Homo sapiens: one gene and its partners. The protein of the gene in region 1 interacts with the protein of each later gene in a pairwise test. Each region holds a gene or a part of one and is shown in the gene's direction. Other genes may lie near its edges.

Region 1 (3,776 bases):
TTCACAAGCACATTGACAAACAAGAATGCATCTCTTCCATTCCAGTGTGGAAAACAGGCCCGGATTCGCAGCAGTGGAACTGCGGCTGCGCAATTACTACTATGACGTGGTGAACTAACCGCTCCCGCACCTGTCGGTGGCTGCCTTTGATCACAGGAGCAATCACAGGAAAATGTATCCAGAGGAATTGATTGTCAGCCACCTCCCTCTGCCAGTCGGGAGAGCCAGGCTTGGATGGAACATGCCCACAACTTGTCACCCAAAGCCTGTCCCAGGACTCACCCTCCACAAAGCAAAGGCAGTCCCGGGAGAAAAGACGGATGGCAGGATCCAAGGGGCTAGCTGGATTTGTTTGTTTTCTTGTCTGTGTGATTTTCATACAGGTTATTTTTACGATCTGTTTCCAAATCCCTTTCATGTCTTTCCACTTCTCTGGGTCCCGGGGTGCATTTGTTACTCATCGGGCCCAGGGACATTGCAGAGTGGCCTAGAGCACTCTCACCCCAAGCGGCCTTTTCCAAATGCCCAAGGATGCCTTAGCATGTGACTCCTGAAGGGAAGGCAAAGGCAGAGGAATTTGGCTGCTTCTACGGCCATGAGACTGATCCCTGGCCACTGAAAAGCTTTCCTGACAATAAAAATGTTTTGAGGCTTTAAAAAGAAAATCAAGTTTGACCAGTGCAGTTTCTAAGCATGTAGCCAGTTAAGGAAAGAAAGAAAGAAAAAAAAAAAAGGCCTGGATACTGCTTTTGCTGTCTCTGTTATGAGATGGAAGACTTACATGTTTGTGATAAAAGGGGACCATGAGAATGAATTGGCTTGGCTTACTTTCCCCCTGAAATCCTCTCTCCTGCAGACTGTCTTGAAGACCTGGTGACTGGTAAATAAAGCCCTGCATGGAGGCTGCACAGCAGGGGCAAGAGGCCCATCCCCCAGCATCTCACTGAGGACAGCTTCAGGCTGCCTTCCTCTGAACGTGGTCCACACCTTCCTCTCCTCCACAGAGAGGGTGCCGCCAGAATCCCCTGTCGCTTTCTGTGTCTGCAATGGGGGGCAGCACAGGGATCAAAGCCATCTAAAGAGTTTCCAAAGAAAGTATTAATTCAGAACAAGCCAAAGACCCTGAGCCTCACCACAAACAGGCCTTTTGGAGTGTGAATTTGAGTTGAAGATACAAGATCGGAGAATGATTTTCTGGTCTTAACTAATCCTCATCTTCATGTTTGATCTTTAAGAAGTCATCACCCATTGATTTCAGTTTTGCTGTACCTCTTGAAAGTTAAAGAGACATCTCAGCACTTTAGGAGGCCGAGGCGGGTGGATCACTTGAGGTAAGGAGTTTGAGACTAGCCTGGCCAATATGGTAAAACCCCATCTCTACTAAAAATACAAAAATTAGCCGGGCATGGTGGCATGTGTCTGTAGTCCCAGCTACTCGGGAGGCTGAGGCAGGAGAATCGCTTGAACCCAGGAAACGGAGGTCGCAGTGAGCCAAGATCATGCCACTGCACTCCAGCTTGGGCATCACAGCGAGACTCTGTCAAAACAAACAAACAAAAAAACAACTTAAAGAGGTAATTTAGCCATCATTCTTATGCCAGCAGATATAAATAAACTTGGACCCATCTGGTCTTCAGCTAAACCTGAGACATTTTAAAGTGCATGGACAGCCATGGACAGCAGGCCCTCCTCTAACAGGGGATGCAAGGCATGGAGAAAGACAATCAGTACCCAAGCTCAGCCACAGAAGACAGGAGTCACTCATATAACTTGTGTTTAGAAGTTTTTGGTAGCCACGCACACTTTCTGAAATCACACTATCTGGTGGTTTAATCATATTTTTAAAGACAGAATCCCTGAGTGCTGAGCAGATTCTCAAAACACATTTAGAATCCCTGAAATTAGAAAGATCAATGACAAAATATCTGTCAGCCAGGCCACAAACAGGTGTAAAATTATGAAAGGAGTGGTTGGATGTGCCAAGTTTGGTAAAGTGGTGACTGCATCTGAGAAAGAGGCTGTGAGGCTGAACTCTTGGTGGCTTCCTTCTGTAACTTCCAGAGGGAGTCTTCAACACAGGCCCCGTGCTCGTAGGAATACGGTAGCACCTATGTAGGAAGTGCGTGGAGTTTTCTGTCTTCTTTCTGTGTGATTTTTGGCCTTTTTATCAGCACTTCTCCCCTCCCAGGAGCCTGGGGATGCCAAACATCCAGAATGTGATGGGACAAGATGGGGGCAGGGGCCTCACCTCCCTGCAGAGGTCCGGCCAGGTCTCCTTGTCCCTGGACAATCTCCTGAGCCTCTCTGCTTGGTGGAGCAGGCACCTGTGTGCAGAATTCCCACTGTGGCCAGCACGAGGAAGTCTTTTCTAGTGAAAATGTGTCTTGTGGTCAGGAATAATTATCCTTTCCCCTGTAGCCACCAAGGAGGGCAAATAGAGAAAGGTAACCTAATTGAAGGATTGGTCATGTGAAAAGGGCTACATTTGGGAAGCTGGGAAAGGCCTCCAGGCTTCTAGAGCAGCTAGCTTGGGCTGGATTCTCATACCCAGGCTGCCCCTTGGATTGTTCTACCCAAGCTTTTCCCTGGGGTCTGGGCTCACTCCATAAGGTAAGGTGCCTTTTACCTTATGGTCCTTCTTTAGCAGGTAACAAAGGAGCATCAGGGGCAGGCTGCCCTGGTGGCATCACACTGGCTAGTGAGGCCGTGAATATCTTGTCCCCCAGCAGGGCCGACAGTTTCTATCACAGAAAACAGTGTGTTCAGTGGTGAAAATCGTTGCATGCATGTTTTCATCTGAGCGTGTCCTTCTCCCATACTCCCTATCAGCCAGCCCTGCCTGTAGCTGCTGTATGGTGATTGCACTTGGACATCAGTCCAATGACTGCAAGTCGGCCTGGATTTTCACTTGCAGAGGCTACAGCTGCATTGTCAGGTCTCCCAGCCCTGCAGAGAGCTCCCTCCACTGGTTAGCAGTGTGTTGTGTTTTCCATTCATTTCAGAAGAGCTACATTGTGTCACTGGACATTTTTAAAAACTGTGATTTTTAATAAAAATTTAAAATTTGCTTTGTGATGATTTTCATGGAAGTTATTAGGATGTGGTAAGTCACACTGTCAAATAGTGTCAAGCAGCATTGTCAAAGGGGTAGCTAAATGTTTTCTAAAACATTAAGTCCCTGCCATGTCCCAAAAAAGTGAATGTGTTGGCCGGGTGCAGTGGCTCATGCCTGTAATCCCAGCAGTTTGGGAGCCCAAGGCAGGAGGATCTCTTGAGCCCAGAGTTTGAGACCAGCCTGGACAACATAGTAAGACTTTAGCTCTGCAGAAATCAAAACATTAGCCGGGTGTGGTGGTATGCACCTGTAGTCCCAGCTACTTGGGAGGCTGGGGCAGGAAGATTGCTTGAGCCTGGGAGGTCGAGGCTGAAATGAGCTGTGATGGCACCACTGCACTCCCAGCTGGGTGACAGAGCAAGATCCTATCTCAAAAAAAAAAGTGGATGTGCACAGGTCAAAGTTGACTGTGAGATTCCACCACACAGAACGGCGGGGAGGCCCATCAGGGAGGGCCCTGTCCTGCCCTGCCTCTATCTTTTATTCATGAGCAGAGCATCTACCCAGCCAGGGCCTGACAGCCCATGGCCTGCCTAATAAAAGACAGACTGAGGAGACCCAGAAATCCCCCATCAGGCCAAAGCAGGGCTGTGGGTTTTGAGCTATCCCTTTCTCTATGAAGACAGCCTAAAAGGAACTGCGGTAGGCAAAGAAAGGATTC
Region 2 (3,500 bases), on another chromosome or scaffold:
CTATCTTGTCTAATTTAAAGTCCATTTTATCTGCTATTAGTATAGCCACTTCAGCTGTCTTTTGGTGACTGCATGGTATATCTTTTTTCATCTGTTTTATTTTATTTTATTTTATTATTGTTTTTAGAGACAAGGTCTCGCTATGTTAGCCAGGCTGGTCTCAAACTCCTGGCCTAAAGCAATCCTCCTGCCTTGGCCTTCCAAAGTGCTGGGAATACAGGTGTGAGCCACCACACTCGGCCCTTATCCAACTTCTAGCTTCCGTTGTAGCTATTGAAGTCAGATTTTAGTTTATCAGTTACTCCTTTAAGCATACTTTGGAACTTTATCCTCAGACTCTCATTACCTTTAGAATTTTCTCTGATTTTGGCTTTCTGCAGTTTTGGTATAGTGTATCCAATATGAATTTCTTTTTACCTTTTTCTTTTCTTTTTTTTTTTTTTGAGACAGAGTCTTGCTCTGTTGCCCAGGCTGGAGCACAGTGGGACAATCTCAACTCACTGCAACCTCCACCTCCCTGGTTCAAGCAATTCTCCTGCCTCAGCCTCCCGAGTAGCTGGGACTAAAGGCACGTGTCATCATGCCCGGCTAAATTTTGTACTTGTAGCAGAGACAGGGTTTCACCATGTTGGCCAGGCTGGTCTCGAACTCCTGACCTCAGGTGATCTTCCCACCTTGGTCTCCCAAAGTGCCGGGATTACAGCCATGAGCCATTGTGCCTGGCCGAATTTCTTTTTACAAATTCTGCTCGGGATTCATTAGATTTCTTTAACGTGTAGAGCAATTTCTTTCTTTCTTTCTTTTTTTTTTGAGACGGAGTCTCGCTGTGTCACCCAGGCTGGAGTGCAGTGGCACGATCTTGGCTCACTGCAAGCTCTGCCTCCCGGGTTCACGCCATTCTCCTGCCTCAGCCTCCCGAGTAGCTGGGACTACAGGCGCCTGCCACCATGCCCAGCTAATTTTTTGTATTTTTAGTAGAGATGGGGTTTCACTGTGTTAGTCAGGATGGTCTTGATCTCCTGACCTCATGATCTGCCTGCCTCGGCCTCCCAAAGTGCTGGGATTACAGGCGTGAGCCACCGCGCCTGGCCGTGTGGAGCAATTTCTTTAATCAGTTCTGGAAAATTATCAGCCATTATCTCTTCATATATTGCCTCTATTCCATTAACTTTTTTATCCTGTGTTATTATTTATTTTTGAGGTAGAGTCTCGCTCTGTCACCCAGGCTGGAGTGCAATGGTCCGATCTCGGCTCACTGCAACCTCCACCTCCTGGGTTCAAGCAATTCTCCTGCGTCAACCTCCCGAGTAGCTGGGATTACAGGCGCTCGCCACCGTGCCTGGCTAATTTTTGTATTTTTAGTAGAGACGGGGTTTCACCATGTTGGCCAGGCTGGTCTTGAACTCCTGACCTCGTGATCTGCCCGCCTCGGCCTCCCAAAGTGCTGGGATTACAGGCGTGAGCCACTGCACCTGGCCTACCTAAAGTCTTTGTGGGCATTTCTTCTGGTTTGTTTTCATAGTGCTTTTTTTTCTTGTGTACCTGTTTACTTAAAAAAATGTTTTTTTGGCTGGGCGCGGTGGCTCACAACTGTAATCCCAGCACTTTGGGAGGCCGAGGCTGGTGGATCACGAGGTCAGGAGATCGAGACCATCCTGGCTAACATGGTGAAACCCCGTCTTTACTAAAAATACAAAAAAATTAGCCGGGCATGGTGGCGGGCGCCTCTAGTCCCAGCTACTTGGAAGGCTGAGGCAGGAGAATCGCTTGAACTCAGGAGGTGGAGGTTGCAGTGAGCCGAGATTGCACCACTGCACTCCCGCCTGGGTGACAGAGCGAGACTCAGTCTTAAAAAAAAAAAAAAGTGTTTTTTTGGCTAGGCATGATGGCTCACCCCTTTAATCCCAGCACTTTGGGAGGTGGCTGGATTGCTTGAGCCCAGGGGTCCAAGACCAGTCTGGGCAACACAGTGACACCCCATCTCTACAAAAAAGTGAAAAAAATATAAATTACCTGGGCATGATGGCCTGTGCCTGCAGTCCCAACTACTTGCAAGGCTGAGGCAGGAGGATCGCTTGAGCCTGGGAGGTTGAGGCTGCAGTGACTCATGATTGTGCTGCTGCACTCCAGCCTGGATGACAGAGTGAGACCCCATTTCAAAAAAAGAACATTTTAAAATTGAAGTATAATATAGTTCAGAAAAGTACACATATTCTAAGTATATGGCTTACAGAATGTTTACAAATTGAACATATCTATGCAGCCAGAATTCAGATCAAGAAACAGGGTATGGCTGGGCGTGTTGATTCACGCCTGTGATCCCAGCACTTTGGGAGGCTGAGGTAGGCAGATTGCTTGAGCCCAGAAGTTCTAGAACAGCCTGAGCAACATGATGAAATCTCTACTAAAAACACAGAAAATTAGCCGAGCATAGTGGCATGTGCCTGTGGTCCCAGCTACCCAGGATGCTGAGGTGATCATCACCTGAGCCTGGGAGGTAGAGTCAGCTGTGAGCCATGATTGCTTTACTGCATTCCAGCCTGGGTGACAGAGTGAGACCCTGTCTCGAAAGTCCCCCCACCAAAAAAAAAAAAGAAAACAGGAAAACGCAGGCTATTGGCCGGGCATGGTGGCTCATGCCTGTAATCCCAGCATTTTGGGAGTCCGAGGCGGGTGGATCAGGAGTTTGAGAGCAGCCTGGCCAACATGGTGAAACCCTGTCTCTACTAAAAAAATATAAAAATGAGCTGGGCATGGTGGCGTGCACCCGTAACCCCAGCTACTCGGGAGGCTGAGGCAGGAGAATTGCTTGAACCTGGGAGGTGGAGGTTGCAGTGAGCCGAGATCGTGCCACTGAACTCCAGCCTGGCTGACAGAGCAAGACTCTGTCTCAAAAAAAAAAAAAAAAAAAAAATGCAGACTATTATCAGCTCTAGAAACCTTCTAGAAACCTCCTTATATGCTCTTCCAACCCCTACCAACACCTCCCTCCACCTCCCCATATTAAGATAGCTACTGTCTTGACTTTGAGAGCATAGATGAATTTTGCCTACTTTTTTTTTTTTTGAGACAGAGTCTCACTATGTCCCTCACGCTGGAGTGCAGTGGCGTGATCTCGGCTCACTGCAACCTCCACCTCCCAGGTTCAAACGATTCTTCTGCCTTAGTCTCCCAAGTAGCTGGGATTACAGGCGTGCGCCACCACACCCGGCTAATTTTTCTATTTTTAGTAGAGACGGGGTTTCACCATGTTGGTCAGGCTGGTCTCAAACTTCTGACCTGATGATCCACCCGCCTCGACCTCCCAAAGTGCTGGGATTACAGACGTGAGCCACTGGGCCTGGCCTGCCTACTTTTAAACTGTGTAAATAGAATCATACAAAATATAACTTTTTGTATCTGGCTTCTCTTCCTCAGTGTTATGTTTTTGTGATTTATTCATAATATTGTTCTTAGCTGTAGACTCATTTATTCTTGCTGTGTAGTATTCCACTGCGCCT
Region 3 (3,500 bases), on another chromosome or scaffold:
CTGAGCTCAGGCAGTCCGCCCACCTCGGCCTCCCAAAGTGCTGGGATTACAGGTGTGAGCCACCGCGCTCAGCCTTACTTATTTTTTTAGAGACAGGGTCTTGCTCTTCATCAGGCTGGAGTGCAGTGGCGTGGTTATTGCTCACTGCAGTCTCAAACTCCTGCTGTTATTGGTTCAAGTGATCTTCCTGCCTCAGTCTCCTGAGTAGCTGGATCCACAGGCGGATGACGCTACACTCAGCTAATTTTTTTTTTTTTCCTAATTTTTCATAGATACTTCGCTTTGTTGCCCAGGCTGGTCTCGAACTCCTGAGCTCAAGCGATCATCCTGCTTCCTCCAACTCCCAGAGTTCTGGGATTACACGCGCGAGCCACGATGCCAACCAGGAGACCAGAAATTAAGCTCAGCTTTCTTTCTCTCCCTTCTTCCCTCCCTCCCTCCCTCCTTTCCTTCCTTCCTTCTTTTTTAAAACTTTGTGGTATCTGTTTGTGAATTGCTTATTTTACTTACCATATTGTCTTCAAAGTTCATCCATGTTATAGCCGGTGATGGGATTTCCTTCCTTTTTGAGATTGAATAGTATTCCATTGTATGCCTATGCCACATATGGTTTAATCATTCATCCATTGATGGACACTTGGGTTGCTTCTGACTGTTGGCTGTTGTGAGTAGTACTGCTATGAACACGGGTCTGCAAATATCTCTGAAACTCTGCCTTCTTTTTCTGTTTGTTTGTTTGTTTGTTTAAGGCAGTCTTACTCTGTTGCCCAGGCTTGAATGCAGTGGTGCCATTACAGCTCACTTTATTTTTTATTTTTTTGAGACAGTCTCACTCTTGTTGGCCAGGCTGCAGTGCAGTGGCGTGATTTCAACTCACACTGCAAACTCCACTTCCCGGGTTCAAGCTATTCTCCTGCCTCAGCCTCCTGAGTAACTGGGATTACAGGCATCTGCCACCACACCCAGCTAATTTTGTGTTTTTAGTAGAGACAGGGTTTCTCCGTGGTGGTCAGGCTGGTCTTGAACTCCCGAACTCAGGTGATCCACCTGCCTCGGCCTCCCAAAGTGCTGTGATTACAGGTGTGAGCCACCACGCCCAGCCTGCCCAGCTAATTTTTGTATTTTTAGTAGAGACAGGGTTTTGCCATGTTGGCCAGGCTGGTCTCGAATTCCTGACCTCAGATGATCTGCCTGCCTTGGACTCCCAATGTGCTGGGATTATTGGCGTGAGCCACCGCGCCTGGTGGAGTGGTGGAGTCTTTTTTTTTTTTTTGAGGTGGAGTCTCTGTGGCCCAGGCTGGAGTGCAGTGGCGCCATCTCGGGTCACTGCATCCTCCGCCTCCCAGGTTCAAGCGATTCTCCTCCCTCAGCCTCCTGAGTAGCTGCGGCTACAGGTGTGCGCCACCACACTCGGCTAATTTTTTGTATTTTAGTAGAAACGGAGTTTCATCATGTTTCCCTGGCTGGTCTCCTGAGCTCAGGCAGTCTACCAGCCTCCCAACGTGCTAGGATTACAGGCGTGAGCCACCCCACCCTGCCCAACGACTCACTTAGCTTCAACCTGTCAGACTCAGGCTTCTCCTACCTTAGCCTTCTTAGTATCTGGGACAACAGGTGTGTGCTACCATACCTGGCTAAATTTTTCTTTTTTTGATTTTTTGTAGAGACAGGATAATTTTTTTTTTTTTTTGTATAGACAGGGTCAGGCTATGTTTATGTTGGCCAGGCTGGGAAATAAGGTCTTAATAGAGGAAGTTGAAGATTCCTGGGGGAATAGCATGTAGAGCAGCTATAGAGGGAGAGGGTGCTGATTACTAGCTAAAAGACTTAGAAATTTTTGCAAACATGGACTCATGATAGTTTTTGGGTGATGAGTCTTCTTGTAGGATAGCTTGAAAGAGGAGGAGGAAACTAGAGGCCCTGGTAATATAAGGTAACATTAAGTATCCTGATGTCAGTAATGGAGAAGAGTGAAAGACTATGATTGATTGGGTGACTGTGTGGGCAGAGGATGTGAGGAGAAAAGGACATCTTGTGTGTGTGTGCGCACACATTTTTAGTTGTGTATCTTCTACTTGTTTTCTCCCCCACCTTGTACCTGTACTTTCTCAAGCCCAAAAATGAAAATTTACCTGCTACCAACCACATCATCTTGTGCATCTGTGTAGCTCAGTTTTTATTTCTTTAGATCTGTGGTCCTCCGTGGAAAGAGAGCCACTACCCCAAGACACATCTAATATAATACACAGGGCGCTTACGTGGTTAGAAAAGAAGAGATAAGCCGGGTGCGGTGGCTCACTCCTGTAATCCCAGCACTTTGGAAGGCCGAGGCGGGCAGATCACGACGTCAAGAGATTGAGACTATCCTGGCCAACACGGTGAAACCCTGTCTCTATTAAAAATAACAAAAATTAGCTGGATGTGGTGGTGCACACCTGTCATCCCACCTACTTGGGAGGCTGAGGTAGGAGAATCACTTGAACCCAGGAGGCGGAGGTTGCAGTGAGCCAAGATAGTGCCAATGCATCCCAGCCTGGCGATAGAGCAAGACTCATCTCAGGAAAAAAAAAAAAAAGGAGCTTGTTTTGGCCAGGTGCAGTGGCTCACGCCTGTAATCCCAGCACTTTGGGAGGCTGAGGCAGGTGGATCACCTGAGGTCAGGAGTTCGAGACCAGCCTGGCCAACATGGCGAAACCCTGTCTATACTAAAAGTACAAAAATTAGCCGGGCATGGTGGTGGGTGCCTGTAATCACAGCTACTCAAGAGGCTGAGGTGGGAGAATTACTTGAACCTGGGAGGCGGCGGTTGCAGTGAGCTGAGATGGTGCCACTGCACTCCAGCCTGGGCGACAGAGGGAGAATCCATCACAAAATAAATAAATAAAATATATAAATTTTAAAAAGTAGCTTGTTCTTAGTTTAATATTCTTTTTGAGTTCTAAAACGCTAATTTGAAAACATGTCTATTGATGATATTTGAGCAACCGTATCCATATTAAGCCTTAATATGAGAGGAATTATCTTCTGTGTTAATTTTTTTTTTTGAGACGAACTCTTGCTCTGTCACGCAGGCTAGAGTGTAGTGGCGTGCTCACTGCAACCTCCACCTCCTGGGTTCAAGCAGTTCTCCTGACTCAGCCTCCCAAGTAGCTGAGACTACAGGCGCCCGCTATCGCTCCCAGCTAATTTTTGTATTTTTAGTAGAGAAGAGTTTCGCCATGTTGGCCAGGCTGGTTGTGAACTCCTGACCTAGTGAGCCACCTGCCTCGGCCTCCCAAAGTGCTGGGATTACAGGCGTGAGCCACGGCGCCCGGCCATCTCTGTTATTTCATTGTAATGTTTTAACGGGTACCCCCTGTAAATTAGTGTATGAAAGGGCTTTTGTCTGTTGTAAAGCACTTTACAAATGCAAAAGTTTGTTGGAAATTGTATTTGAATGCCCCACATCTGTGTAACCAATCCTCTCTATATGAGGATGTTGTGTATGTTTCAGTTTTATT
Region 4 (3,500 bases), on another chromosome or scaffold:
CTCAATTGGGGAAAAGGGCTGGCATCTAGTGGGTAGAGGTTGGGACTGCTGCTGAACATGCCACAAAGCACAAGACAGCTTCCACAACAAAGAATTATCTGACCCAAAATGTCAATGATGCCGAAATTATGAAACTCTGCTTTAGAAGTTCTAGTTTTCTCATTGAAATCTTCCCTGTTTAAATAATTTAAGTCAATTTTTTTGTCTTTACAAGATAGTAAAAAGCACAACATCTAAGAGCATCTAGGAGGCATGATAAAGTAATGAGAAGAAGAGATCAGATATCCCACTTACTGACTGTGTGAGCCTCAGTTTCTTCGTCTGTAAAATGGGGAAAATGATGCCTGGCTTGCAAAGTTATTGTGAGGATTGCAGACAATCAGTGTACAGGCCCCAGTCATGGTACATGCTAAATACCATAATTCTTTTTACGATCAAACAGCAATTATGTCACTCTCTAGTTTATCTGGGATGTGTGTGATCTTGCCTTCCTTTGAACCAAAGGTATGCTTTGTTTTTTTATAACAAAAAATTGTCTTGATTTGAATTTACTCATTGACGTTCGTATTTCTCCTAGACTTTAGGCTCCTTCAGACATCATTGTGTCTTCCAGCAGAGAACCTTACTCATGGTGAATACTCAACAAGCTTTTGTTGACCTGAAATATTAGCCAGAATAAATCCTACTTAATTTTCCTTTTCTTATAAGACTGAGTTCTTTTTCCCCTTGGAGCATTTTAATGTGTTTAGTAAAAACATTCACTTCCTGAAATGTAGCGCCCATTTTGTGTCTGTGCCCAAGATGAATGTGTGCTTGGTAATACCTAGAATCCTGGAAGTCTTGCTTTCCTGAATCAGGATCATGCAGAGCATTTCTGCTGGGGGAAGGGGAGTCTTGAGGAGGACAATATTTCATTGAAGAAATGACGGGCAGCATGGTTTGAATCTGGTGTTTTCCTTTTTGAACCCCTTAGGCTAATCCTTTTCGTCTGGCTTTGGTCTGACACTGTCCGATGAGCAGTCCAGTACATTGGCTTCTTTCTGGTAGAAGGGACATTTTGATTCCTTACCAGGTTTATATTTTATTCTAATGTCCAAAGTGAAGCGAAGTAATGAGTATATTTTCATTGAATAAATGAAATATTCATTCATTCTAATGAATAAATGATGACACAATGTTATACATCCTTTGCCTACAATCACTTAATCACTTCCCCCACTTTTTTTTTTTCCTTTTGAGACGGAGTCTCTGTCGCCCAGGCTGGAGTGCAGTGGCATGATCTTGGCTCACTGCAAGCTCTGCCTCCAGGGTTCATGCTATTCTCCTGCCTCAGCCTCCCGAGTAGCTGGGACTACAGGCGCCCACCACCACACCCGGCTAATTTTTTTTTTTTTTTTTGTATTTTTAGTAGAGACGGGGTTTCACCATGTTAGCCAGGATGGTCTCGATCTCCTGACCTCGTGATCCGCCTGCCTCAGCCTCCCAAAGTGCTGGGATTACAGGTGTGAGCCACCACGCCCGGCCTCACTTTCCCTTTTAGAATACATGCTAGATTGTTTACTCTGACCTGAAATAGTACCCATTTCTTTGTCAAGATGAAGACTTCACTAATTGTAATGGAAAGAAGTCCTCTCTTTCTGAATGCAGTTTTAGATCCTACAGCACACCATGTGGAAGTCTTTAAATGTTTATCAAGTTGTTGAATGTTAAAATGAGCCTGAGTGCAGGGGATGACCCTGAGACTCTGTCTCAGAACCAACTTGTGGAATGTCAGTTGGTGGGTTTGGATGATGGAAAAGGAAGCAGGCCCTGTGGGGAATGTGTGTTTTGACACAATGTTCCCTTTTAAAACGACCGTGCGTCTACTGTTTCACCATCTGCCCGTTAGTATCAATATAGCAAGAGGTTGTGGGAATTGGTGTGTATTTTGTGGAAGAAAGAATAACAACAACAAAAAAAAAAACCTTCTCTGCCGGCTTCCTTGAAAAGTGTGACTTTGTTCACTTTCAGAAGGTATAGGTTACAGCTGATTTGGAAAGAGGATCCTCCCTCTTTGAATGCCTTCAGGCTCAGAGGAAAATGAGAATCTATTTGGGTAAGTTAAAAATGCCAAACTAAATCTCCCAATGCAAATATGGACCACCCAGGGACACTGTAAAAGGCCAGATTTGGGGTTTTGAATATTTACACATTTTCTTGCCTCCTATTTTAAGCTTTTTAATATTTGTCAAATGCTGCTGAAAAGTAATTGGCATATCAAGCAAGGGTGAAATCCCATATCTTATGCCAGAGAATTTAAAGCCAGGGGAACTGTGCTCATTTTCCTTGAGTATCCCTTGTTTTTAAAAATGAAGAAATGTGAGTTCAAAAAATTCTAAGACAATAAATTAGAGACCTTAAAGTAGATAGAAAAGTTGGTTACAAAACTATTGTCGAGGAGGAGGAAGATATACTATCTTTGAGTGCTCCCTTTCCCTGGTATAGTCTGCCCTGACTGAGCCATTTTTCTCAGTAAATTGGGCAAAAGTTCATTTTTGACGATGGGTCAGGGTACTGGAAACATCACCCTATAACACTGTCAACACCACCGCTACCTTCCCAAATGCTGGAAAGGCAGATCTGGGCAGCACATGGAAAAAGTGTTTTCTAAACTTCCTGGAGGAAAATACAGAAAGTTGCTTTAACCAGGGCACATGCTCTGGAGACTGTGTGGTTAATAATGACATTTAGTACTTTCTTATTCTTTACACCCTCCTCACGGGGCATTCCATAGCACTTTAAGATGGGGATGGTAAAGGAGGGGTGCTTGAAGATGTCAACGCTGTCAGGGAAGGTGAAAAGTAACCAGAATTCCGACTCATTGGAGTGAATTTGATCAGGCTAGGCTGTGTCATGATGCAACAAAAAATAACTGCCAACCTCAGTGGACCAACACAACAAAAAAATTTTCTTGGCCACGTTACATGTCCAGTGTGGGTCAACAAGGGTCTGTGTTCACCATGTTCACTCAGAGGCCCATGCTGCATGAGGCTTCCTCTTGATATATACTTTTACAATCCCTGTGGTAAATTGCATACTGCATATTAAACCTCCTGGAAGTGACATATGACACCTCTACTCATGTTTCATGAGCCAAAAGCAGTTGTGTGGCCATTCCTGACTACAGTGGCATCCTTAAGTGTAGTCCTATGGGAAGGGAACTGGAATTTTCGTAATAAACTCAAATGACTATGGAAGGGAAGGACTTCCATGAAGTCTGCCTATTCCTGCTAATAACTACAGTCTCTATGGGGCACCCCTAGGGACACTGACTGATATGTAACCACATATGTAGTGGTTTCAGCCACCAACTCTACAAGTTAATTGGGAGAGTTCCCTGAGCCATTTGTGGGACTTGCAATAGAGGTGTTGCTCATTTGCTCAGCCACTGCATGCTCAAACCCTGTATGGGATGGGGAGCATGCAGACAGGCAGGTGCAGGAGCCAGAATGAGCACTTTT

The links. Proteins that work in one complex are often made in the same cells at the same time.
Region 2: the proteins of SYK (region 1) and TRAIP interact in a two-hybrid assay, tested with the Homo sapiens proteins (one study listed by BioGRID).
Region 3: the proteins of SYK (region 1) and CANX interact in binary tests that used the Homo sapiens proteins (3 or more experiments, as listed by UniProt).
Region 4: the proteins of SYK (region 1) and DYNC1I1 interact in binary tests that used the Homo sapiens proteins (3 or more experiments, as listed by UniProt).

The regions. Positions count from the first base shown.
Region 1 is NC_000009.12:90,895,483-90,899,258, forward strand, and holds the end of SYK (tyrosine-protein kinase SYK), read left to right. Parts: intron 1-45; coding exon 46-118; 3' UTR 119-3,067; downstream 3,068-3,776. UniProt on the Homo sapiens protein: Non-receptor tyrosine kinase which mediates signal transduction downstream of a variety of transmembrane receptors including classical immunoreceptors like the B-cell receptor (BCR).
Region 2 is NC_000003.12:49,850,065-49,853,564, reverse strand, and holds part of TRAIP (E3 ubiquitin-protein ligase TRAIP), read left to right. Parts: intron 1-3,500. UniProt on the Homo sapiens protein: E3 ubiquitin ligase required to protect genome stability in response to replication stress.
Region 3 is NC_000005.10:179,701,967-179,705,466, forward strand, and holds part of CANX (calnexin isoform d precursor), read left to right. Parts: intron 1-3,500. UniProt on the Homo sapiens protein: Calcium-binding protein that interacts with newly synthesized monoglucosylated glycoproteins in the endoplasmic reticulum. It may act in assisting protein assembly and/or in the retention within the ER of unassembled protein subunits.
Region 4 is NC_000007.14:95,779,054-95,782,553, forward strand, and holds part of DYNC1I1 (cytoplasmic dynein 1 intermediate chain 1), read left to right. Parts: intron 1-3,500. UniProt on the Homo sapiens protein: Acts as one of several non-catalytic accessory components of the cytoplasmic dynein 1 complex that are thought to be involved in linking dynein to cargos and to adapter proteins that regulate dynein function.